7 linked regions of the Homo sapiens genome follow. The protein of the gene in region 2 interacts with the protein of the main gene of each other region in a biochemical or structural test. Each region holds a gene or a part of one and is shown on either strand. Other genes may lie near its edges. The genes, in order: BMAL1, RXRA, NCOA4, CTCF, POU2F2, NPAS2 and NFKBIB.

The links.
Region 1: the proteins of RXRA (region 2) and BMAL1 form a complex in vitro, tested with the Homo sapiens proteins (one study listed by BioGRID).
Region 3: the proteins of RXRA (region 2) and NCOA4 form a complex in vitro, tested with the Homo sapiens proteins (one study listed by BioGRID).
Region 4: the proteins of RXRA (region 2) and CTCF form a complex in vitro, tested with the Homo sapiens proteins (one study listed by BioGRID).
Region 5: the proteins of RXRA (region 2) and POU2F2 form a complex in vitro, tested with the Homo sapiens proteins (one study listed by BioGRID).
Region 6: the proteins of RXRA (region 2) and NPAS2 form a complex in vitro, tested with the Homo sapiens proteins (one study listed by BioGRID).
Region 7: the proteins of RXRA (region 2) and NFKBIB form a complex in vitro, tested with the Homo sapiens proteins (one study listed by BioGRID).

Annotation. Positions count from the first base shown.
Region 1 is NC_000011.10:13,382,290-13,385,789, forward strand, and holds part of BMAL1 (basic helix-loop-helix ARNT-like protein 1), read left to right. Parts: intron 1-2,190; exon of another isoform or gene 2,191-2,435; intron 2,436-3,399; coding exon 3,400-3,500. UniProt on the Homo sapiens protein: Transcriptional activator which forms a core component of the circadian clock.
Region 2 is NC_000009.12:134,430,955-134,434,454, forward strand, and holds part of RXRA (retinoic acid receptor RXR-alpha), read left to right. Parts: intron 1-950; coding exon 951-1,042; intron 1,043-3,147; coding exon 3,148-3,253; intron 3,254-3,500. UniProt on the Homo sapiens protein: Receptor for retinoic acid that acts as a transcription factor.
Region 3 is NC_000010.11:46,013,624-46,017,123, reverse strand, and holds part of NCOA4 (nuclear receptor coactivator 4), read left to right. Parts: intron 1-429; coding exon of another isoform or gene 430-443; coding exon 444-584; intron 585-1,857; coding exon 1,858-1,998; intron 1,999-2,181; coding exon 2,182-2,270; intron 2,271-2,571; coding exon 2,572-2,680; intron 2,681-3,484; coding exon 3,485-3,500. UniProt on the Homo sapiens protein: Cargo receptor for the autophagic turnover of the iron-binding ferritin complex, playing a central role in iron homeostasis. Acts as an adapter for delivery of ferritin to lysosomes and autophagic degradation of ferritin, a process named ferritinophagy.
Region 4 is NC_000016.10:67,635,526-67,639,677, forward strand, and holds the end of CTCF (transcriptional repressor CTCF), read left to right. Parts: intron 1-1,164; coding exon 1,165-1,326; intron 1,327-2,162; coding exon 2,163-2,347; 3' UTR 2,348-3,652; downstream 3,653-4,152.
Region 5 is NC_000019.10:42,094,447-42,097,946, reverse strand, and holds part of POU2F2 (POU domain, class 2, transcription factor 2), read left to right. Parts: intron 1-1,703; coding exon 1,704-1,865; intron 1,866-2,017; coding exon 2,018-2,159; intron 2,160-2,253; coding exon 2,254-2,402; intron 2,403-2,484; coding exon 2,485-2,661; intron 2,662-3,500. UniProt on the Homo sapiens protein: Transcription factor that specifically binds to the octamer motif (5'-ATTTGCAT-3'). Regulates IL6 expression in B cells with POU2AF1. Regulates transcription in a number of tissues in addition to activating immunoglobulin gene expression.
Region 6 is NC_000002.12:100,823,139-100,826,638, forward strand, and holds part of NPAS2 (neuronal PAS domain-containing protein 2), read left to right. Parts: intron 1-3,500. UniProt on the Homo sapiens protein: Transcriptional activator which forms a core component of the circadian clock.
Region 7 is NC_000019.10:38,906,179-38,909,389, forward strand, and holds the end of NFKBIB (NF-kappa-B inhibitor beta), read left to right. Parts: intron 1-1,042; coding exon 1,043-1,131; intron 1,132-1,220; coding exon 1,221-1,481; coding exon of another isoform or gene 1,482-1,529; exon of another isoform or gene 1,530-2,552; coding exon 2,553-2,654; 3' UTR 2,655-2,711; downstream 2,712-3,211. UniProt on the Homo sapiens protein: Inhibits NF-kappa-B by complexing with and trapping it in the cytoplasm.

The sequences.
Region 1 (3,500 bases), on a different chromosome or scaffold from region 2:
ACAAAGTAAGACCTGGGTTCGAAGCTTGGCCTTGCCATGTGCTAGTTATGTGAACTTGTACAACTTTCAAGCCCTAGTTTTCTTTATAATGGAGCTAATAATGGTTAGGGTAGCCAGCATCTTTGCACGAGGTCCTACTGTGAGATAATATATGTGAAAGTGCTTGGCCCAAAATACCACTGACAGATGAAGTCTGAGCTTGGTGTCCCGTGACCCCCGCCCCCCTGCCCACAACACACACACTGCTTGCCAGCTGTCTTCTTAGCTGTTCTTCTGTTATACCTCCAGGTCCTTCCTGCATATTGGATCCACCATCTTCTTAGGGTGGTCTTCCAGTCTCTGCTTCTTAAGTTAACTTTTAGGCACTTGACTTGACTCCTGGTATTACCAAGGATTCTACTTCTTGGTTTTGAAAGGTTATCAGTCCAGTATAGGCTTAAATATTACTCAAAGAACTTTCATATACATTGTCTCATCTCACCTTCACAACATTATAGTGACAAGATCCAGGCTCCTCAGCGTTCGTTTTATAAGTATGGCCCCCAGGCTACAATCCTGGGCTCATGGCTTCCAATTCTTTTCACATCAACAACTACCAGAAATCAAAAGCTGTGCTCTGCATCATAAAGCCCCAGCTATTTTTGAGGCACTTATGAAAATTCTCCCTTTTCTTTGAGAAGAATGGATTATAAAATGGATCTGTGAGAAGAAATTTGGATGTGTTCTCACGAGATGAGTCCTGGGCAGCAGGACTTATAAGAAAAGCAGCTTAAACAAGACAGTTAAAACTGACAGCAGTATTAAATGGTGCACCATACCCAGCCCTTTCCAGTCACTTTCAAATTTGGAAGGTCCAAAAATGAACCATTTAGCCTGCAGTTGTTTGTCAGGATCAAGCTAAAAAGGAAGCCTAAGTGAGCCTCCATAGGTCGCAAGAGAGTACAGACATCCAGAAGCACTAAGGAAAATTCAGATAAAGCAGCAGTTCTACAAATGTCATCTGCAGTCTTTTTCCAGAAAGAGAGGGGGCACAAGATCCTTTTAAGGGTCTGCAAGGTTAAAGCTATTTTCTTAATAACATTAAAACGTTAATTTTTTCCCTGTATTGATAATGTGCACTATTCATACTAAAAGCACGGTTGGGTAAAATTGCTGGCATTTTACAAAAATCAGACAAGTGGCACCAAACTATACTAGTAGTCATTGTATTCTTCACCACCACACACTCACAGTAAAAAAATAGTTTAAAGCCAGTTTCATTTAAGATTGTCCATCATGGCTAGGTGCAGTGGCTCACCCCTGTAATCTCAGCACTCTGGGAAGCTGAGGCAGGCAAACTGCTTGAGTCCAGCAGTTCCAGGCAAGTCTGGGCAACATAGAGAAATCCCATCTCTACTAAAAAATACAAAAAAAATTATCCAGGTGTGGTGGTGTACCTGTAATCCCAGCTACTCCGGGGACTGAGGTGGGAGAATCACCTGAGCCCAGGAGGTTGAGGCTGCAGTGAGCTGAGATTGTGCCACTGTACTCCAGCCTGGGCAACCAGAGTGAGACCCTATCAAGGAGGGAAGGAGGAAAGGAAGGAAGGGAGTGAGGGAGGGAGGGAAAATGTCCATCATTACTTTTATAAAATTCTCAAGCACACATCTTTTTAATGCTCTGTGACAAAATGAGAAGTACACAGAACTTGTGCTGCATACCAAAGTATGATGTTTGTCTCAAAAACTACTTGTGTGATTAAGTTGTGAGTTGAACTAGCTACTATTTTCATTGGACACCATTTTTATTGTATATGGTCATTCGGTTTTGGGTATTTAGAATACTTTTTTTTTGGAAATGAATGAAGTGAACCTGTCACTTTAAGGAAAATGACTGACATTTGTTGCCAATGATAAAATCTGAGCTTTCAAGCAAAAATTGGAATTTTTAGAAAACTTGTCTCTGCTACTTTGACCTTGAGATCTTCCTAAAACTTAAAAAATGTTGTTGATGAGATAGGGAGTATTAATAATAGTGATATTTTGATGCTCTATAATGAAATGTGTCAATATATAGAAGATCTGCATAACTCAGTGAACCAATATTTTGTAACTAAACAATGCAAGGTATTTCAAAATCATGTAAGGGTAAAAGATCCATCCTAAGTGCCAAGATATAAAGAGTACAAAACATTCATTGATATGGTTTCAGATTCCACATTGCAACTCACCTTTAAGAAACTTCTACGTGTCAAGTTTTGAAGTGGTATCAAAAAAGAATACAATTATTTGAAAAGTCTATTAAAATATGCCTCCCTTTTCCAACTACTTATCTGTGGGAGGTTGGATTTCCTTCATATACTTGAATCACAAGACGTATCTAAATAGACTGAATGGAAAAACATATATGAGAATCCAGTTGAAAATTATTAAGCCAGACATTAGATTTGCAAAAATGTAAGATAATACTCTGCCTGGTAATTTTTTGTTACTGTTTTAGAAAATAGTTATTTTTCATTAAAATACTATTCATTATTTATGTTAACATGTAGCGGGTTTATTACATTTAAGAAATCTATTAGTTTTAATTTCAAATACAGTAAATATTGATAAATACAGCCTACATAAGCAAAAGTTCTTTGGAGTCCTCAATGATTTTTTTAAGAGTGTAAAAGGGTCCCTAGACCAAAACGTTGCTGTGGAAATAAAGTAAGTTATAATGCCACCTGCTGGCAAAGCCTGAAATCATTGCTGCTCCTGAAAGCAGCAGCTACCAAACTGTTTCCTCACGTATATCCAGATAGGTCTCAAAGAATGCTCTTCTTTGAGACTCAGCCAGGGGAAGGCAGCTGGGGTGAGTGGGGGAGATTTTGAGACAGAGTTCTCTTACTGAGTAGTAGTAATAATCCTCCCCAGTAGCCTGTCTTAACTTAAACCACAGGTTACTGAAGTTGGCACCTGTAGTATAAGAGATTTACTTCTGTTTTCTTCATTTGACTCCTTGAGCTGTGTCTCTTCACAGCTTGTTAACTCCACTTTTTCTTCTTCAGAAATATCTGTCACTATAAGATGTTTTATTCCCTTATAGGGGAAACGTCTAGCTGGGCTCATTGAAGTTTAGGCATTGGTCCTAAAGAAATATGTGGGCATCATGATTCCAGGCAGTTGAATGCTCTTGGGATTTTATTCAGCCTTTAAGTTGCCTCTGTGGGCTCACTAAAATGGAGAGAAAAGAATAGTTCGGGGGAGAGGTTTTTTCTTACTCTGACCATGTCTGTCTAACAGTTCCTTGTTTGAAATCATCCAATAGAAAACTGAAGCCATTTGAAGCTTCTCCCCACCCCACCCCATGCTTCATTTTCCTTTTGGCATTGCTCATAATACTGATTCAAACTTCACACTTCCCTCCTTTTGTTTGTAGATTTTAAATGGAGGGACTCCAGACATTCCTTCCAGTGGCCTACTATCAGGCCAGGCTCAGGAGAACCCAGGTTATCCATATTCTGATAGTTCTTCTATTCT
Region 2 (3,500 bases):
CTCAGAGCAGACATCGGGGGTCCCTCCCAGCTCCTGTTCTGTCCCACCCTGTTCTCCAGCCTCCTTCAGATCTTCTTCCAGGAATCAACCAGGGCACTCCCCATTCTGCAGACCCTCAGGGCCGCCCTTGGCCCACAGGGGAGAGCCCAGGCTCCTTAGGCAACCATCCCCACCTGGTCACCTCCTTTCCCCCGCTGTGGCCCACCCTTACTTCCTGGACACAGCAGTTGAGCTTTGGGGTTGGTGGGCAGGCTGCTGAGGCTAGGGGGCCCAGTACACTGCAGAGGCTGGTGTGATTCAGAATCCAGCTGCAGGGCTGGGGCAGCTGAGTCTGAATCCAAGAACGCCCCCAGCGTCTCCATGGAGGGAGCTGGCGGGCTTTCCCCGTGTTGAGGCTGGTGGATTTTTTTTCTCTGGTGACAAGAAGTAGACATGCCTCCCTCTGGCAGCCCCCACCCAGGGACACCAGGCCCTGGGGAAAGGTATCTTCCTGGACTGAAGGGAGCGGCTGGGGCTGTGGCATGGGAAGGGGCTTTGCCTCAGGTGGTGCTGGGTCCACAGCTGAGGAGGGACAGTGGTGTGTCTCACTGGGTTCGGGAGGGGTGGACTCTGTGCCCTCTGTGCAGCTGCGGCTCACCTCAGTTTAGCTGTCACGAGGCCCCTCCTTAGCACCTCGGTTCCCAGAATAAAGCCCCGCAGGCAGACCCTAGAGGGAGAGGAGAGGAGCCCACCCTCCGGGCAGGGCCAGGCAGGCCTGGCAGGGGCGGCACCTGGGCCTGGGTTCCAGCCCACTCCCTCTCGGGGTGTCTGGGAGTCCTTGCCTTGGCTTGGCCCATCTCAGCGGCCCTCGGGCCACGCCGGGCTCTCCAGAGGCCTTGGGTATCTGGGGTGTGGCCCTGGTGAGGGCTGCGACCTAACTGGGATGGGGTGTCTGCCCTCCTCCTCTGCAGGGTGCTGACGGAGCTTGTGTCCAAGATGCGGGACATGCAGATGGACAAGACGGAGCTGGGCTGCCTGCGCGCCATCGTCCTCTTTAACCCTGGTATGGCCTTCCTGCCTTGAGGCTTCTGGCCCCGTTCTCTGGTGGGGCAGAGGTGCCTGGGCCTCCTCCTGGCTGTACTTCTTGCCTCTGGCTACATGTGGGGCCAACTCCCACCCTCCTTGAGCTCAGTGTGCCCCCCTCCCAGTGAAAGTGTGGCCATGCTGCCTTCTGCTCACCTTGAGGGCCAGCCAAGGGGGCATGGTCCCTGGGCACAGGGGGACCCAGCAAGGCAGTTGTCATGAGGGGCTTGGTGGTGCCGTCTGGGCTCCGCGGTTCATAGTGTTCATCACTGTGCGTCGGAATCCAGACTCCGAAAGTGGCCAGCTGTGGTTGTGAACTTCCGGTGCTGAAGTTCAGGAGTCCCAAGCCCTGCAGGCTGGGGATGGGTCAGGCCTGCCGGGTGTTCCAGAGGGGACCAACCTCATCCCCAAGCCTCGGGTCCAGGGTGTTTCTGGGGCTGGGCCCCTGTGGTTGAGGAGAGCAGGGCTTGGGGCTGTGGGGCTGGGGCTGGGCACAGGCCTCCTGGCCGACAGTGCGGCCCTTCTCCAGCCTCTGGGTTCTCGGCTTGAAAAGCCTCCTAGGTGCTACTCCTTCGCCCAACAAGTGCTGACACGTGCCTGTTTGCTCGGTGCCCTGCTGGCATGGGAGGGCCCCTTCAAGCTGCTGGATAGGGCTTGCCTGCCTAGAGCTTGGGGTTTAGAGGGTCACGCCCACCAGCAGGCACCCCCGGCACGTGAGGGCAGGAGCACGGTTGGTCGAGGGTGCGGGCCACTTCCTCCGGGAGCTGCAAGTTAGGGGCCAGGGGAGTGAGAGGCACGGAGGTGGGGTGGGCTGGTGGAGGCAGCCCAGGCAGGGCCTTGAAAGTCTTGCTAAGTTTGGGTTTTTTCTTGGGGCCACAGGGAGCCAAGTCCTGAGGGGTTCCAGCCGGGAGGGAGCTATGGGTTTCTGTGTTTGGAAACTCAGCTCATTGCGTGATAGGGGCAGGTGGCTGGGGTGTGGAGGGAGAGGTTTGGGGCTGCTGTGGGGAGCTCACTTGGGCTATGGTGGAGGGAGTGGAGCCCTCTCGGCTCCTGGCCCTGACCTTCTGACCTTGCCCTTTGTCAGACCTGGCTCTGAGGGACCGGGCCGGGATGGAGATGGGCATCTTCTTGTGGGGAGAGCTTGTTTCCAGGGTCATTTTATCACCCAGGCTGTGCATCCGGGCCGTAATCCTGCCAGCTCGGAGGCTGAGTCATGCCACGGCCCGGCCCGGCCCGAGGAATCCCCATTCAGGTCCTGTGTGGTCTGGTTGCTAGAGCTGGGGCACCAGCAGGACCTGGGCACCGGCTTGCAGGGAGGGTGAGATTGTCTGGCACAAGCAGGGTCCAGGCACAGGCTTGCAGGGAAAGCGAAGAGACCAGGGCACAGGCATGCAGGGAGGGCGAGGAGACTGGCTGGAGCGGAGGCAGCTGGGGGAGCCAGGTACGTTGCCAAGGAGCCCAGGACACAGGCCAAGGTGGCATTCACAGGGGGTCCCTGGGCCTTGGGGGCCAAGGTGGCATTCACAGGGGGTCCCTGGGCCTTGGAGGTTTTGGTGGCTGCAATCTTAGCCTCTCTGTCCACTCTAGGCTCTTGAGCCCGGGTCCTGAGCTCAGGACTCCGCAAGCACACCGAGGATGGGTTTCCGCAGGGTCTGGGTACTCCTGGGGGCAGCAGCGCTATCTCCCATCCATGTTATGGGGCTGGGACCCAAGGGCAGCAGCAGCATCCATTGTCTCTCCCAGTTCCCAAGGCGGCTGGAAGGAAGGCAGCAGATCCCTGACACTTTATCGATGGGGAAACCGAGTCTCTGGAGGTCAAATAGTTGACCCAAGGTCACGTGGCTGGCAAGTGGCAGAGCTGAGCCTGGACCCAGAGCAGCCTGGCCTGGCCGTGGGTTCCACAGTCGTCCCCCTGCCACCAGGCTCTGGGGGAGCGGGCGGAGGCATGTCCAGCGGCATTCCTCCACCACCTGCTCTGCCCATGGTGGGGCAGCCTGGGAGACCCCACACAAGCCTGGGTCCTGGGGGCAGGTGCCCGAGACACGCCCCAGCTGAGGGTTCTGACCTGTGGCTTCTTCCTTTCAGACTCCAAGGGGCTCTCGAACCCGGCCGAGGTGGAGGCGCTGAGGGAGAAGGTCTATGCGTCCTTGGAGGCCTACTGCAAGCACAAGTACCCAGAGCAGCCGGGAAGGTGGGTCCCGCCCCGTCCCACACACACCCCAGACCCAGGCTCTTGTCTCCAGAGCCCCCACCCCCTGCAAGGCCATTTTATGTGAATGAGAAGGTGGCACCCTCCCCAGGCCCAGCCCATGCCAGCAGGTCCTGAGCAGGCAGCAGGAGGTCCTCCAGGCCAGTGGGCTGTGGCGGGCACACCCCACAGGCCCACGTCGTATCCCCACTGGAAGGATTACCTTGCACCTGGCGCATAGTAGGTGCTT
Region 3 (3,500 bases), on a different chromosome or scaffold from region 2:
TTATTTTGAAAGTAATCAAAGATCCTTCTGTACCTTTTAGTCTTCATCTCTAAATCTACAAAGAGGAACACATGCCTCATATGACTATATGTGTGTTATAAATAGAAAATGATATTCTAATGTTCTTTTAACTTTTCAGGACACTGTATGCTCTTTGATTCAGGACAATTAGTGTATTTTTCCAGAAATAGCTATTCACATGTAAAGTGTCACTAAAGTAGATTATAGAGTTTTATGGCAGGAACAGTGGTAGAGGGAAGGGAGGAGACAATATTTATTAAGAGTATCTTATGTGCTAGGTTTGGTGTTGGAAAGTAATCTAAGTAGTTAGTAATGGGAGTTGGCTGGAATGATCATTTGAGGGATGATTCAAAGGTGGTTTTTGGTTGTAATTATGGTGCTATTTATATATATTTTTTTCTTTTAAAGGAGCAGTGAGGAGAATGAATACCTTCCAAGACCAGAGTGGCAGCTCCAGTAATAGAGAACCCCTTTTGAGGTGTAGTGATGCACGGAGGGACTTGGAGCTTGCTATTGGTGGAGTTCTCCGGGCTGAACAGCAAATTAAAGATAACTTGCGAGAGGTGTGACATGTGCTTTTCTCTTCTGTTGTCTGGACTCTTGACACAGGGCTGATTTGAGCATGGCCAAGGACTTGGTCTCTCCGTGCCAGCAAAAAATTTCACCCCATGCCTTGCGTGGTCTACTTGGTCCCCGTCAGTTGCCTGATATACTGGTGCCTTTCATCCCAAGGGGAAATAAGGCAGATGCTAGAAGAGTCTGGAAAACCCTGTGCCATTCTAGAAAATTCTATTCAGCTTACTTAGATTACTAACTACTTAGATTTTTGATTACTCCTCTGTGTGATTCCTCAGGCACTGTGACCAGTAAAAATATGAAATGAGTGAGCAGTATCCTCTCAGCTGCATCCTCTTGATTGCATGAAGGATGCACTTGAGCATCCTCCCCATCATCTTTTAGCTGGTTAATGGCATTGTTCTGTAAATGACTATCTGTTAGGGCAAGCCAGAGTGAAATCTGTTGTTGGTTCCAGTAGTATTTTGTTGTTGTGTGTGTTAGACCAAGTATTACATGACTTTGAAACACAACTTTATTAAACAGAAAAAAATGTGTTTTAAAATACAGTTTCTTATGTATATTGTCACGGATAATTTATGGCCTGTTTTGACTTTTTCCCTTGGGATTTTTATATTTAGCCCTGTTTGAATCACTGTTTATGCTTCCAGAAATATTAGTTTATAATTTTACTTAAATTGTCTACCCTAATGGTCTTTTAGCTGTTGACATGTGGTGGCACATCTCTTTACTAAATTGGCCTCCTGTAAATGGACCGCTCATTCTGTGGGGTGAGAAAAGAGATAAGGGGCTAGCTATTAAGTTAATACTCTGTCTTTATTCTGCTGATAAACTTGTAAAACCGTAGGTTTTTAAATTATGTGGAAAACTGAGGGGGTCAGTATTTCCTGGTACATTCTTGTATTTTCTCTTGATTAGGACACCCAAATTAAACCTAATCCTCTTAGAAGGCTGGGTATTGAAGAAGGATTTTAGAGTTTAGGTATGCCTTTATGGCTAGGATTCTTAAATTGGGGTCCATAGGGCTTTAGTGGGTCCTTGGGTGGGCTTTGGAACACTAAACCCTGAAATTATAGGTAAAATCTTGAAAATATACATTTTTTCTGGGGAGATACTTCATAGATGTCATTGGATAATTAAAAGGATTTGTGGTCCCCCCAACCCCACCCCCCCAAAAAAAGTTTTAGAAACTCACTATTCTTTGGGAAACATCATTCTTTGGGATTAACACTAGGAAGCTAACATGTATGTGTTTCCTAGGTCAAAGCTCAGATTCACAGTTGCATAAGCCGTCACCTGGAATGTCTTAGAAGCCGTGAGGTATGGCTGTATGAACAGGTGGACCTTATTTATCAGCTTAAAGAGGAGACACTTCAACAGCAGGCTCAGCAGCTCTACTCGGTAAGGTGACTGCATGGCTAGAATTGGTTTGAGCATGGCTTCTGGTTGCCAGAGAGTATCTTCCTTGTAATGCAGTGTTAATATAGATCAGATAGAAGTTTAATCTCAAGTGCTGTTTGGTAACTTGAGTATATCTGGTGCTTTTGGTGTCATTGTGGCTAGTTGGTTTCATTTTTCTTTTAGTTATTGGGCCAGTTCAATTGTCTTACTCATCAACTGGAGTGTACCCAAAACAAAGATCTAGCCAATCAAGTCTCTGTGTGCCTGGAGAGGTAATGACCCTTTTTGCGTATTTTAACTTTTGACTCTTGAACTTTGGTATACTAAAAGAAAGTCGATTTTGTAACTCATTGCTTGTGTTATATTTAACTTCTGTGTTGCTAGGATAAGATCATTCTGCTTCATGTATTTAATATTATACTTGCTGATACATGAATAAGCCATCTATCTTTGGTTGAGTTTCTTAGAGAAGTGTAATCATTTAAAATTACTCACAATTTGGCTTTTGTTTTAGATGAAGTTGATGAAACAGATATTCCTTAAAAATAGCCAATTTTGTTTTTTTTTCCCCAGACTGGGCAGTTTGACCCTTAAGCCTGAAGATTCAACTGTCCTGCTCTTTGAAGCTGACACAATTACTCTGCGCCAGACCATCACCACATTTGGGTCTCTCAAAACCATTGTGAGTAATCTCATATGCTTCACTGGGCACTTCTCATATCTGTGGCCTCACAGCTGGTCTTAAAAAAAATTGCTATGAATAGTGACTTTCTTGAGAATTTGATTAGCTTCAAAAATTTCATGTTCTCAGCTGGGCGTGGTGGCTCACGCCTGTAATCCTAGCACTTTGGGAGGCCGAGGAGGGCGGATCACTTGAGGTCAGAAGTTCAAGACCAGCCTGGCCAACATGGTGAAAACCCATCTCTATTAAAAATACAAAAAAATTAGCTGGGCGCCTATAATCCCAGCTACTTGGAAGGCTGAGGCAGGAGGATCGCTTCAAGCTGGGAGGCGGAGGTTGCAGTGACCTGAGATCGTGCCACTGCATTCCAACCTGGGCGACAAACAGTGAGACTCCGCCTAAAAAAAAAAAAATTCATATTCTGATTAAGTTGCCTAGGTTGGTAGTTCTTGGAATGTAGTACAGACTCAGTGATACTCTTTGGAATGCCTCATGTATCTCTCTAAATACTTTTGAAATATTTTTTGTAAAATTTATGGCTTGAATAGTTTTTAATAAAGAACGAAACGTTTGGGTCTTGTTAAAAGTGGTAATACAACCAATTCTGGTAAAGATTTTTTATATAATAGTTATGTGGTAGAGTATTCTCAAATTTGATAACTACTTTGTAAGTCATGGAATTTAGTGTGAACAGTATTTCTAATGAAATGGTAATGCTTTAACATTTTTGAAATTTGGAATTATAATTTCACTTTTTTGGCAGCATAGCATAAATAACATGATTAAATTATCTCTATTTTGTAGCAAATTCCTGAGCACT
Region 4 (4,152 bases), on a different chromosome or scaffold from region 2:
TGTGGCCCAGGCTGGAGTGCAGTGGCGGATCTCAGCTCACCGCAACCTCCGCCTCCCAGGTTCAAGTGATTCTTCTGCCTCAGCCTCCCGAGTAGCTGGGATTACAGGTATGCGCCACCACGCCCAGCTAATTTTATATTTTTAGTAGAGTCAGGGTTTCTCCATGTTGGACAGGCTGGTCTCAAACTCCCAACCTCAGGTGATACACCCACCTCAGCCTCCCAAAGTACTGGGATTACAGGTGTGAGCCACCACGCCCAGCTGCCAGTTTCTTATTTCTTGTAGAGATAAGGTCTCACTATGTTACCCAAGCTGGTCTTGAACTCCTGAACATGAGTGATCCTCCAACCTCAGCCTCCCAACGTGCTGGGATTACAAGTGTGAACCACCGTGCCCAGCCTTAAATTGATTTTTCTTAATAATTGGCTGAGCATGCTGGCTCACACCTGTAATCCCAGCACTTTGGGAGGCCGAAGCAGGCAGATTGCCTGAGGTCAGGAGTTTGAGACCAGCCTGGCCAACATGGCGAAACCCCATCTCTACAAAAAATACAAAGATTATCTGGATTGGCTGGGCACGTTGGCTCATGCCTGTAATCCCAGCACATTGGGAGGCCGAGGCAGGTGGATCACCTGAGGTCAGGAATTCAAGACCAGCCTGACCAATATGGTGAAACCCCATCTCTACTAAAAATACAAAAATCAGCCAGGTGTGGTGGCGTATGCCTGTAGTCACAGCTACTCAGGAGGCTGAGACAGGAGAATTAAACCCAGGTTGCAGAGGTTGCAGTGAGCTGAGATCGTGCCGCTGCATTCCAGCCTGGGCGACAGAGTGAGACTCTGTCTCAAAAAAAAAAAAAGAAGGAAAAAAAAATTACCTGGGCATGGTGGTGCGTGCCTGTAGTCCCGGCCACTCAGGAGGCTGAGCCACGAGAATTGCTTGAATCTGGGAGGCAGAGATTGCAGTGAGCCGAGATCGCGCCACTGCACTCCAGCCTGGGCAATAGAGTGAGACTGTCTCAAAAAAAAAAAAAGAAAGAAAGTGTATATATATATATATATATATTTATAAAACAAGACTTCAAATAATATATAATTGTTTTCTTTCATCTTCCACCACCCTTCTCCTTGCCCCACCACCTGTGCTTCCTGATTTCATGAAAAGAAAATGCTGAACCAGATCTGGACGACAATGAGGATGAGGAGGAGCCTGCCGTAGAAATTGAACCTGAGCCAGAGCCTCAGCCTGTGACCCCAGCCCCACCACCCGCCAAGAAGCGGAGAGGACGACCCCCTGGCAGAACCAACCAGCCCAAACAGAACCAGCGTAAGTTGTTCATCTCTGCTCTGGAGGCTGGCGTCTTCTCCGAGCATGTGGGGGAGCCAGATGGGTCCTTGTTCTTTGGGGATGTGGGAACTAAGCCATGAGAACAAGTTAAGGGCATGTCGAGAACAAACTCTCAGGAAATGGCTTTTTAGGAGTTTTTACTGAGGAACATCTGAGGAAGTCTTTAGAGGCCTGTTACATTTCAAGAAGAAGTCCAGAGTAGAAGGGTACTTGTGTTCTGCAAGATGGGTACTGTTAATGTGGGCGGGTTTTGAAAAACAACCAAAGTCACAGTCAGCTGGCAGAATGGATGCGGTAATGAATATAAAAGAGCCAAATCGTAAAGGTTGGAGAGGGAAAGCAGTTTCTGCACTGAGATTGCCCCTTCTAAGAAACTCAGGGTCAGGCGGTGGCTCATGCCTGTGATCCCAGCACTTTGGGGGGCCAAGGCGGGAGGATCACCTGAGGTCAGTAGTTCCATACCAGCCTGGTCAACATGGTGAAACCCCATCTCTGCTAAAAATACAAAAATTAGCCAGGCGTAGGGGTGGGCACCTGTAGTCCCATCTACTCAGGAGGCTGAGGCAGGAGAATTGCTTTAACCCGGGGGGCAGAGGTTGCAGTGAGCTGAGATCATGCCCGTGCACTCCAGCCTGGTCATAGAGCAAGACTCCGTCTCAAAAAATAAAATAAAAAATAAATTGACTGTCTCTGGACCGCTATCTAATAAGGCTGTCCTGCATTGCTGACATCCCGTTCGCTGTCAGTCTAAAAGACCCTTGTGATTCTTGGGGCTTTAATGGACCATTTGTTCTGTCTGTGCTCTTCTTTGCCAGCAACAGCTATCATTCAGGTTGAAGACCAGAATACAGGTGCAATTGAGAACATTATAGTTGAAGTAAAAAAAGAGCCAGATGCTGAGCCCGCAGAGGGAGAGGAAGAGGAGGCCCAGCCAGCTGCCACAGATGCCCCCAACGGAGACCTCACGCCCGAGATGATCCTCAGCATGATGGACCGGTGATGGCGGAGCCTTGTGCGTCGCCAGGACTTCTCTGGGCTGTGTTTAAACGGCCCGCATCTTAATTTTTCTCCCTTCTTTCTTTTTTTGGCTTTGGGAAAAGCATCATTTTACCAAACATACCGAGAACGAAAACTTCAAGGATGATGTTAGAAAAAAATGTGATTTAACTAGAACTTGCTGTCTGATGTTAGCAAATCATGGAATGTTCTGAGTCCCTGAGGGTTTACTGTGAAGTGCTGAGGACAGTGTTGACAACTAACTCGTTTTCCTAGATGGAAACGGAGACATTGACCCCTCCCTCCATGTGGTAAACCACTCCAGAATGGCCACCAGGCTTCCCAGAGTTCTATGGTCTTCTTCCCAAGAGAGTTTTTAATTGTAAATGCATACTTGGGAAGGACTTAGAGTTTTAAACTGTTTTTTGCTTTTGCTTTTCCCTGACTCCCTTTGCTTGGAGTCAGCTGCACACCAGTAGTATGGCATGCTACGATCAGGTTCTGTCCTGAAAGCTTTGCCTCTTTCTTGGCAAAGTTTCTGGTATGGTCAAGCTTGTAAATAACTTTTTTTACATTTTAATCTTTTCCATTAATTAAGAGGTTGAAAAGAAGTGCAGTGTAAGAAAACCCAGCATTTTAATTACTTGCAAATTAAGTTACCACAGACTCTGTAGTGTGTAAATGTTGACAAGGAATTGGATCACAATCATGTAGCAGAATGGCACCCAGACCACTGCCCACCAGTGACGGACATGCACGTGGCAGATCATGATTTCCAGCCCACGGAGCCAGCATTTGAACCTTGTATAATTAACTTTCAGTTATGATTTCCCATCGACATTTTCTTTGCCCTGTTTGTAGCTGATTGTTGTGTTTTATAAATCTTCTGTTAAGGCAGAAGGGTGATTATGAGTGGTTCACAGCAGCCCTTATAAGCTGGGCCAGAAAATTTCACTAGGTCAGTAATTTAAACCTTGGATCTTCAAAAAATAAAATAATGTGAAGCAAAACCAACTAAAAAGTGATTCTTGCACATGAACTGTCACATGTTTAAAAATGTGTTTTTTAGAGAGCCTCAGTCTTACTGATTTCAAACACTTTTTTCTTCTGTGTATTGCTTTTAAGAGAGCCATCAGTTAGCTATCAGACTCTAGGTTGATGCATTTTGTACTTAGCTGTACTGTGTGATATTTTTCATTATTTTAGGACGCCAACATGAGACCTGTAATAAAATATGTAATGGGGTTGAAAGCTGGGGAGGAGGATCTACTGCTGTACAGCTAATAAATCATAACGGATTAACAAGTGCTCCAAAGACTCCATCTTGCGTGATTCCTGCCTGCTTGAGGGAGGCTGGGGGGCTGCATACATGGTTCCAGGCTGTGCAGGCTGCTGCCTTTCACAGGCAACCTCTGTTCCCTGGGATGGTACTTTCTCTAGCAGATGGGACGATATGATCTTGGCGGGTGACTGGATATTGAGCGCATCCTGCTGTAACTGTTTTTTTGTTTTGTTTTGTTTTGTTTTGTTTTGTTTGAGATGGAGTCTCGCTCTGTTGCCCAGGCTGGAGTGCAGTGGCGCAATCTCAGCTCACTGCAACCTCCACCTCCCAGGTTCACGCCATTCTCCTGCCTCAACCTCCCGAGTAGCTGGGACTACAGGCGCCTGCCACCATGCCTGGCCAATTTTTTGTATTTTTAGTAGAGACTGGGTTTCACTGTGTTAGCCAGGATGGTCTCGATCTCCTGACCTTGTAATCCGCCTGCCTAGGCCTCCCAAAGTGCTGGGATTACAGGCGTGAGCCACCAC
Region 5 (3,500 bases), on a different chromosome or scaffold from region 2:
GGATGATGAGAAATTACTTAATGGGTACAATGTACACTGTTTGGGTGATGGATACACTAAAAGCCTACGCTTCATCACTACACAATACATTTGTGTAACAAAATTGCACTTGTATCTTTTAACATTTTGTTTTTTGTTTGAGACAGGGTCTTACTCTGTCACCCAGGCTGGAGTGCAGTGGTGTGATCACAGCTTACTGCAGCCTCAGCCTCCTGGGCTCAAGTGAAGCAGTCCCCAGCCCTCCTGAGTTGCTGGTACTACAGTCACGCCCCACATGCTTGGTTAATTTTTAAAATTTTTGTAGAGATAGGGTTTCGCCATGTTGCCCAGGCTAGTCTCAAATTCCTGTGCTCAAGCGATCCTCCCACTTTGGCTTCCTAAAGTATTGGGATTACAGGTGTGAGCCATTGCACTCGGCTGTCCTTAAATTTATACCAAAAAAAAAAAAAAAGGCAGGGCGCAGTGGTCACCCCTGTAATCCCAGCACTTTGGGAGGCCAAAGCGGGTGGATCACCTGAGGTCGGGAGTTCGAGACCAGCCTGACCAACATGAAGAAACCCCATCTCTACTAAAAATACAAAATTAGCCGGGTGTGGTGGCGTATGCCTATAATCCCAGCTACTCGGGAGGCTGAGGCAGGAGTATCACTTGAACCCAGGAGGCAGAGGTTATGGTGAGCCAAGATCGCACCATTGCATTCCAGCCTAGGCAACAAGGGTGAAACTCCATCTCAAAAAAAAAAAAAAAAAAAAAACTGAAAAATTCCTAAACATCTGCCCCAGCATTTTGGAGAATAATGGATAAAGGACCTGAGCGACAAACATCCCTGTACCCACCACCTGCTTCATATCCTTTATTGTTAGGGCAATGAAGAATCCCAGATAGAGCTGTTGCTTTTTTGTAAATCTCTCTAATTGCCCTCCCAGTCCTTTTTTTTTTTTCTTAACTTTTACTTTATTTGCAATCTACTCATTGCTTAGGACTTAATTTCTTAAGAGCTGTTTTAGATTCACAGCAAAACTGAGTGGAAGATATAGAGATATCCCATCTATCTCTGCCCCTACACATGCACAGCTTCCTGCATCATCTACATCCCCAACCAGAGTGGTACAAGCGTAACAGGTGATGAACCTACATTGACACATCACTATTACCCAAAGTTCATAGCTGACATTAGGGTTCACTCTTGGCATTGTACAGTCCATGGGTCTGCACGACCTACTCATTTTTAACCCGATTCTCTCAACAGCCCCACTGGGTAGACAGAACAGCAGTGATTGTTCCCATCCTGCAGAGGGGGAAAGTGAGGCCTGGGCTAAGCAGTGATTTGGTGGCAGGGCCAGTCCCTGATTCCCAGGTTGAGATGAGGATGAACCACTGCCTCCAGCTCCAGGGAAAGAGCCCTGGCACAAAAAGCTGGCTGCTCCTTCTGGGAGTTCGCAGGCGTGAAGGGACAGTGCAGAGAGTCCCAGGCAATGAGGAAACCCATGTAGGGCAGCAGAGTCGGACCTTTAAAGGGATTAACAGTGCATGTGGAGGGACCTTTAAAGGGATTGACGGTGCTTGTGGAGGAAGGCGGGGGGAGTCTGCAGGCGGCGGATGGAACGCAGGGGCGAAGAGGGCGGGAGGGGGACTGTGCACCCATCGCTGAGCCCCATCCTGGTCCTCCGCCCTGCATCCCACCCACCTGCCCACCCCACCAGGCCGTGACCCGCCCTACGCTGCCCGACCCGCACCTCTCGCACCCGCAGCCCCCCAAATGCTTGGAGCCACCATCCCACCCCGAGGAGCCCAGTGATCTGGAGGAGCTGGAGCAATTCGCCCGCACCTTCAAGCAACGCCGCATCAAGCTGGGCTTCACGCAGGTCTGGAGGCACCTTGCAGGCTGGGCGGTGGGCGTGGGGGCGTGGCCAGTTGATAGATGCCGCGAGGGGCGTGGCCAGTGGGCGGGCGGAGCGGGCCCAGTGCCGGAAGGCCCCACCCTGACTTCGGGCCCTTCCCCGCCCCACTGGCCCAGGGTGATGTGGGCCTGGCCATGGGCAAGCTCTACGGCAACGACTTCAGCCAGACGACCATTTCCCGCTTCGAGGCCCTCAACCTGAGCTTCAAGAACATGTGCAAACTCAAGCCCCTCCTGGAGAAGTGGCTCAACGATGCAGGTGGGACCAGGCTGGGGTTCCCGCGTAGGGGGCGGGCAGTGGCCGCTGGCCGCGGGAGGCCCCTTCTCATGCTCACGTCTCCCCCGGCGCACAGAGACTATGTCTGTGGACTCAAGCCTGCCCAGCCCCAACCAGCTGAGCAGCCCCAGCCTGGGTTTCGACGGCCTGCCCGGCCGGAGACGCAAGAAGAGGACCAGCATCGAGACAAACGTCCGCTTCGCCTTAGAGAAGAGTTTTCTAGCGGTGAGGCCCCCCTCTCCTGGGTGGCCCTCACCTGAGGGGTGGCGGGCGGTGGGCCTCGGGCTAACGAGCCCTCTGCCTGCAGAACCAGAAGCCTACCTCAGAGGAGATCCTGCTGATCGCCGAGCAGCTGCACATGGAGAAGGAAGTGATCCGCGTCTGGTTCTGCAACCGGCGCCAGAAGGAGAAACGCATCAACCCCTGCAGTGCGGCCCCCATGCTGCCCAGCCCAGGGAAGCCGGCCAGCTACAGCCCCCATATGGTACCAAGAGCCCGCCTGGGGGGTGGGGAGACCACAGAGCTCCGCAGGCACCTGTGTGAAGCCCACCCTACCTGGTTGTCCACAGAGCCTAGAACAGAGACAAGAAGAGTCACTCTTGGAGACAGGCCATCACGTAGATGGGCACAGTTACACAGGGACGGTTTCCAGGGAACTGTGGTCTTACATGGGGGATACAAGCACCCCTAGATACACACCGACATAGCCAGACACAGAGTTATCACAGTGCCATAGCCACACAGGAAGGGATATATGTCCAGGGACGTGGTCCAGGTTAGAACACACAGGCTCACAACCACACAGAGGCAGGGAGAGGCACTTATTTGCCGTTCGGGGAAATTGTCACACCCATGGGTGTACTCTCAGGTCCACAGCTATACACAGGCCCACTTGATATCAGACACAGCTGGGACATCCTTTATCCCATCCTTTTATTTCCATTTCTGGGAAGAGCTGTGATGCTCCAGAGAGGAGCCCCTGCCCCCATCGGTGTGAAGGAGGCACTGTCTGAACTGAGTTCTAAAGGACAAGGGAGAGTTAGCCAGCCACAAGAAGGCAAAGAGCCTTCCTGGACCAGTGTGTACTAAGGCCTAGAAGCCAGGGTGTGCCCAGCCCAATTTGAGAAACTCCAGTGCAATTTAGTGTGGTTGGTGCTGCAGTTTATATGAATGAGGTTGGGGAAGGAGTGGGGGCATGTACCCCAAGTTTTACAGTGAAGAGCTGGAACTTGAACCATGGGCAGTGAGGAGGTAAGGAGTGGTTTTGAGCTGGGGAAGGAGAGAGTCACATTTAGTGAGGTTTCTGGGGCTGATGCAAAGGTG
Region 6 (3,500 bases), on a different chromosome or scaffold from region 2:
ATTTCTGAATGCTAATGGGGTACTTAACTATGAGTAATTCTATTTTAAATCTCAAGGTGATGATGATTAATAGTATCTCAGGGCACTAAATAAACATGTATTAAATATGAGCGTATGTTTAAAGGGGGAGTTTTTAATGCAGTCTTTAAGGCACAACTGCTTCTCACTTGAATTCTTTAACTGAGATTAAGGAGTCCTTGGCATTTTAAGCAAAGTCATTTCTTAGGTAAAGTTCCCCCAGAGACCACTTGAACTTTTGCAAGTCTTAAAACAATGGGTGGTTCCATTTGATGGTTCAGAATAGAAAGGAGAGTGTTGATCCTCTACACTGGTATGAAAAAAACTGTATAAGGAGATGGAGGATGCTGGATATCATAGTGCCCGAGAATCACCTGGGGCCCTTGTCAAACACAGATTCTAACTCAGGACACCTGGGAGAGGACCCGAGCTGCATTTCTCACAGCTACCAGATGCTGCACGCTGGCAAGGTTTTGGGATGCACTGAATCCAGTTCAGCATGTTTACTGAGCATATACCACATAGAGAGCCCAGATGATAAAAAAATGAGAAGATGGGTTGTACCTGCCCTTGAGGAGCTAACAAGGTGAGGTGGCAGGGAGAGAGAGAGGGATTGTAAACTGAAAATGAGGTTCTGGGATGCCATTCTCTGGGGTGGTGGCCAGAAAGGGGCCCAGGAAAGGAGAGTTGCTGGTAGGGCTTCCACATTGCTGACCTTGACCTGTAGTCATATTTGAATGGAGAGCCTTGTGACTTGGCAAGAAATAAAATGCAGATTTTGAAGTCAGACAGACCTGGGGTAGCCTCCCAGCTCAGCTATGGCAACTTTTAACCTGAGACTCAGAGTCCTTGTCAGAAAAACAGTGCAAATGATGCTTACCTTGCCAAGTTTGTAGAATTACCAGTAAAGGACGCGTGTTAGGCCTAACAAAAGTGATTGCTTTTATTACTGTTGATAGGAGAGAGGAGGCTGGAAAGCAAGGAGGACGAAGAGGTTACTAAAATATGTTCCATGTAGTTCACCAATTAGAGATTCAATTTGGTTTACCAGCAAACCCAAGGCCGGCCGTGGAGAACCGGGCCAGGGCTGGAGGGCAGGCAGCTGTGGAAGCTAATCAGAGGCAAAATGGAAAATTATTGGGAGCATGCTTATCTCCACCCTCTCCTGCAGTCCCTGGCTTCTGGTTTGCTTTGTTGATAGCCCTTCCTAGGATATTTTCATCTGAAGCTTTTCTTGGTACTTAAGCTGTAGGTTCTGTTGATCAAGACTGCTAGTGGCAATCAAGCGCTCTTTAAAAATGTAGTGGAGAGGACAAACACCTCTCCTCTTTGAGGGGCATTGGTCTATTCTGTGGTGGGTCACTTTCCAGGATCAAAGCCATCAATCTGTCTTTCCACCATAGTACGAGTTACTTGAAACTAGTGCCGAGCGTGTTGGAATTCACCTGGGGTGCCTTTTATGCTTTGCACTCTAAGATATTGCTTCCTCCTGCCATCTAGGAGAGATGGATATTGCAAGGCAATGGTGTCCTTCACCCTGATATTAGGAGGGGTCACCTGGGTGGCCCTGAAAACACTTCAACCAACATCACTCTGATTTTTTAAAATATATTTTGGGATTCCATTTATTATTTGCAAAGGCGATTTCTCTGCTACCATTTGCCTTCCACGCTCCCTGAAAGTAAATCTTGAAAACCAAGTTCTAAGAGAATGGCAATGGCAGTTTGATGTTTAGGGGGAAGGAAAAGCAGAGGAACCCCCTGGAGCCAAGGCAGGCCTGGGTGAGGGTGGAGACGAGAGAGGGAAAGGAAGGCATCGTCAGGCATGGGAGTACCAGGATGGAAATGGGAGCAGTGGTGGGGGCTGAAGCTGAGAGGTTGGACCCTAGGACTCAATTTGTGGACTTTGTTGCTTTGCTGAAGGCCGTGGCAGATAATGTTCCCAGACCACTGAAAATCATCCAGGCTTCCAGAAAACACAGGCCCATCTAAAGACAGACAGGTGACGAGGTGACAGAACCTAGTGGCGTGATTCTTCTAGCCTCTTCTGAGCCAAAAATGACATGCACAATTTTATGAATGATATTTGTGCCCCTTGGTGATAAAATATTAAGAGCTCGAGGTCATCTGAAAATTATTGGTTTTTTGTTTATAAAAGTACATAGTTTTTGGAAAAGATAGAAAAGAAGGAAAAAACCCCACAATTTCAAGATATATTTTCCGTTCAGTGTTTTTTCTATGCATTGAAATATTTTTATATTAGTTTATCTTAAAAAGCACATGGATATAATCTTGTAAAAATTTTCAAATAGCACAGAACCATTTCTAGTAGAAAGAAAAAAAATTCCCTTCATCCTTGTGGCCTACCCATAATCATCGCCCTATCTTTTATTTGCCTAGCAGAAACTGGATTTTGTACAGTAGACTGCCAACCCACACCTGCCTCTGGAGGTTTATCAGATTGGCCACTCAACCCTGGTGAGGGTGGGGCTGCTGCCCTTGCCAGTGACTGGCTCAGGGTGAGCATGCGGACCCTGTTCTAGCCAATAAAATGTGAGGGTGGGCCACTGGGAGGCTTCTGGGAAAGTTTCCCTGCTCTCAAAAGAGACAAGGAAGGAAACAGTCCTTTCCTTCCACTAGATACTGTGATATGTGGCCATAATGCCTGCAAACTGGGCAGCCATCAGCCACCAGAGGGGCTGGGCCAGGTCTCAGCTGACCTGCGGAAGAATGCAAAGGTGAAGAAGGGCAGGGGGCGGGGAGGTCTCCGTGGTGCCCTTGACTTTCTGAATTACACAAAGAAGAGTCTGTTTTTGAACATGTGTGAGATCATGAAACCATTACCAGATGAAGCAAACTGAGCTAGTTTTTCTGTTGTAGCCAAAAGCATCCCATAACTCTCCACCTTTCTCAGGAGGTAATGACTGATAACCATGGGGCATGTTCTGCTAGTCATTTTTGGCGCATTTACATATACACACACATATGTACACTTTTAAAAACTAAGGCCGGGTGCACTGACTCACGCCTGTAATCCCAGCACTTTGGGAGGCCGAGGCGGGCGGATCACGAGGTCAGGAGTTCGAGACAATCCTGGCCAACATGGTGAAACCCTGTCTCTACTAAAAATATAAAAATTAGCTGGGCATGGTGGCACATGTCTGTAATCCTGGCTACTCAGGAGGCTGAGGCAGGAGAATCACTTGAACCAGCGAGTCGGAGGTTGAAGTGAGCCAAGATCCTGCCACTGCACTCCAGCCTGGCAACAGAGCAAGACTTTGTCTCAAAAAAATAAAATTAAACTAAAAAATAAAAACAAAAACTGAACTCATTTTATGTATATTATTTAGCAACTTAATATGGCATGGATTTTTAATGACATACCTTTTTCTTTATTTTTAAAGGCTACAGAGTATTATTCAGAAGTACAAATAGGACGTTATTTAACCCATCCCTATTAATAAATAATCTATTGAGTTGACT
Region 7 (3,211 bases), on a different chromosome or scaffold from region 2:
GGTTGGAGTTCAGTGGCGTGATCTTGGCTCACTGCAACCTCCACCTCCCAGGTTCAGGTGATTCTCCTGCCTCAGCCTCCCGAGTAGCTGGGATTACAGGGATTACAGGCACATGCTACCATGCCCAGCTTATTTTTGTATTTTTAGTAGAGACGGGGTTTTACCATGTTGACCAGGCTGGTCTTGAACTCCTGGCCTGGCCTTAGGTGATCTGCCCGCCATGGCCTCCCAAAGTGCTGGGATTACAGGTGTGAGCCACCGTGCCTGGGCAGGAACCTTAATTTAAGGTTTTTTTTTTTTTTTTTTTTTGACATGGAGTCTCACTCTGTTGCCCAGGCTGGAGTGCAGTGGCGCCATCTCAGCTCACTGCAAGCTCCGCCTCCTGGGTTCACACCATTCTCCTGCCTCAGCCTCCCGAGTAGCTGGGACTACAGGCGCCCGCCACCATGCCCAGCTAATTTTTTGTATTTTTAGTAGAGATGGGGTTTCACCATGTTAGCCAGGATGGTCTCGATCTCCTGACCTCGTGATCCACCCGCCTCAGCCTCCCAAAGTGCTGGGATTACAGGCGTGAGCCACTGTGCCTGGCCTTTATTTTTTATTTTTAGTAGAGACGTCTTGCCATGTTGCCCAGGCAGCTTCTTGAACTCCTGAGCTCAAGTGATCCTCTTGCTTTGGCCTCCCAAAGTGCTGGGATTACAGGTGTGAAATAGCGTGCCAGCTCAGGTCCTTTGAGTGATAAGAGCAGAGACTTGGGTCTCCTCCTGGCCCCAAAATCCAGGCTCCCTGTCCACAGACCCCAGGCTGTTTACCCGCGGGCCCCAGGCTTCAAACAACTCAGGCACTAGCACTTGCCAGCAAGCTCAGGCCATCTGAGATAGGCATTTGGTACCCAGGTACCTCTTTGCCATACCCAAGAATTCAGGAACCAGCCCCCAAACCTAATCACCCTCACGCCACATGACCCTCCCCCAGGATCAAAGCACGGTGGGGTGGGGGGGGCCCTCACCTCATCATCTGACGCCAATCACTCTGTCCCCAGGCCACACCCCACTCCACGTGGCCGTTATCCACAAAGATGTGGAGATGGTCCGGCTGCTCCGAGATGCTGGAGCTGACCTTGACAAACCGGTGAGCCCCAACCTCGGGGAAGATGCCGTCGGCGGGAGGGGGCTTGTCCCCTCTTCGGGCCCTCTGACCTTTCTGTTGCACCCCCACAGGAGCCCACGTGCGGCCGGAGCCCCCTTCATTTGGCAGTGGAGGCCCAGGCAGCCGATGTGCTGGAGCTTCTCCTGAGGGCAGGCGCGAACCCTGCTGCCCGCATGTACGGTGGCCGCACCCCACTCGGCAGTGCCATGCTCCGGCCCAACCCCATCCTCGCCCGCCTCCTCCGTGCACACGGAGCCCCTGAGCCCGAGGGCGAGGACGAGAAATCCGGCCCCTGCAGCAGCAGTAGCGACAGCGACAGCGGAGACGAGGGCGTGAGTCAGGAGGAGAGACAGGGCAGCCCAGCTGGGGGGTCAGGATAGACCGGCAGGCAAGAAGCCCAAGAAGATAATTAGGCACCGACCTTGGGCTGCTGTTAGAGAACTCAGGCAGCAGCGCCAGTGACACGGGGCACTAGTCAGGAGAGACCTGGACAGGGGTGGTGGGAAGAGCTTGGGCAGAAGTGGCTGAAAAACTAAGGCAGTGGCAAAGGTAGAACTCAGGCAGGGGTGGAGAAAAGGCGTTGGTCGCAGTGATTGGTGAACACAGCGGGGGTGGGTGGTAGCGCTGGGGGTGATTTTAGGCAGCAAGAATTGGAGAACTCACACTGCGAAAAGAAAACCTTGGGTGGCAGTGATTTGAACACCGGCAGTGCTGGGGCAGGACCCGAGCCAGCGGTGGGGAGAGATATAGTCAGAGAACCCAGCAATACAGATCCGTCCTTGGGCAAGGCGCGGTGCTGGATGATGGGTGCGGAGGAATTTGGGTAAAGGCAGAGGGAAGGGGTGGAGGAGGGCCAGCTCAGTTGCCGAAACTCTGGAGTGGCGGCTGGCTAGAAATTGGTCTGTAGAAATGACCTTGAAAATGGAGTTCTGGCCAGGTGCGGTGGCTCACGCCTGTAATCCCAGCACTTTGGGAGGCCGAGGCAGGCAGATCACGAGGTCAGGAGTTCGAGACCAGCCTGGCCAACATGGCAAGACCCTGTCTCTACTAAAAATACAAAAATTAGCTGGGCGTGGTGGCGCATGCCTATAATCCCAGCTACTTGGGAGGCTGAGGTAGGAGAATTGCTTGAACCTGGGAGGTGGAGGTTGCAGTGAACCTAGATCACGCCACTGCATTCCAGCCTGGGCAACAGAGCGAGACTCCATCTTAAAAAAAAAAAAAAAAAAAAGAAAGAAAAGAAAATGGAGTTCTGAGAGCTAGGAAACTGGGAGGTTGAGCCAGGAGCAGGGGAACTTGGGCTTTGAGGCGAGACCTAATTCTTAGGGTGCTCTATGAGGACATGGGTGGTGGGCAAAGTGACAGCCGCCTGAGCCCCTCTGCCTGGTCCCCTTTGCCCCCAGGATGAATACGACGACATTGTGGTTCACAGCAGCCGCAGCCAAACCCGGCTGCCTCCCACCCCAGCCTCAAAACCTCTTCCTGACGACCCCCGCCCCGTGTGATTTGTTTCATTGTTAATATAATTTCCAGTTTAATAAACAAAACCCTAGTTCTGACAACCAGAGACCAGACTGATCTTGTCTTCCCAGTCCTCCGGGTCCTTCTGGGGCCCATCCCTGTCACATCAAGTGCTGCTCACGGAGGCAGGGTGCGTTTCTTTGTGCTTTATTCACTCAGAAGGGTTGGAGTGGGAGTGCATAGGTGTGGGGGTGCTTCCTGTGTCAGGGCTGAGCCCAGCCCCCGGCCCAGCTCAGACTCACCTCCTTGGGTGTGGTTCCAAGGCACGTCCGCCTCCTCCCCTGTTTGGGTAGGGGTGGCGTGGGGTGCTAGGTGAGGTGGAGGCTTCGGGGTCAACAGTCCTAAGCCACAGGGTGTGTCAGGAGGAAGGAGGGACTGAGGTAGGGGTCAGCCCTCCCTCCTGAGCTGCTCCCCCAGCGTCTCTGTCACCTTCTTCAGTTCGTCTCTCAAGTGCTCCAGCTGCTCCACCTCCTTTTCCTGGTGGGGTCAGAAACGGGGTAGTCAGCACCCACCTTCAAAGGCAGGCCACCTCGGTCACTGT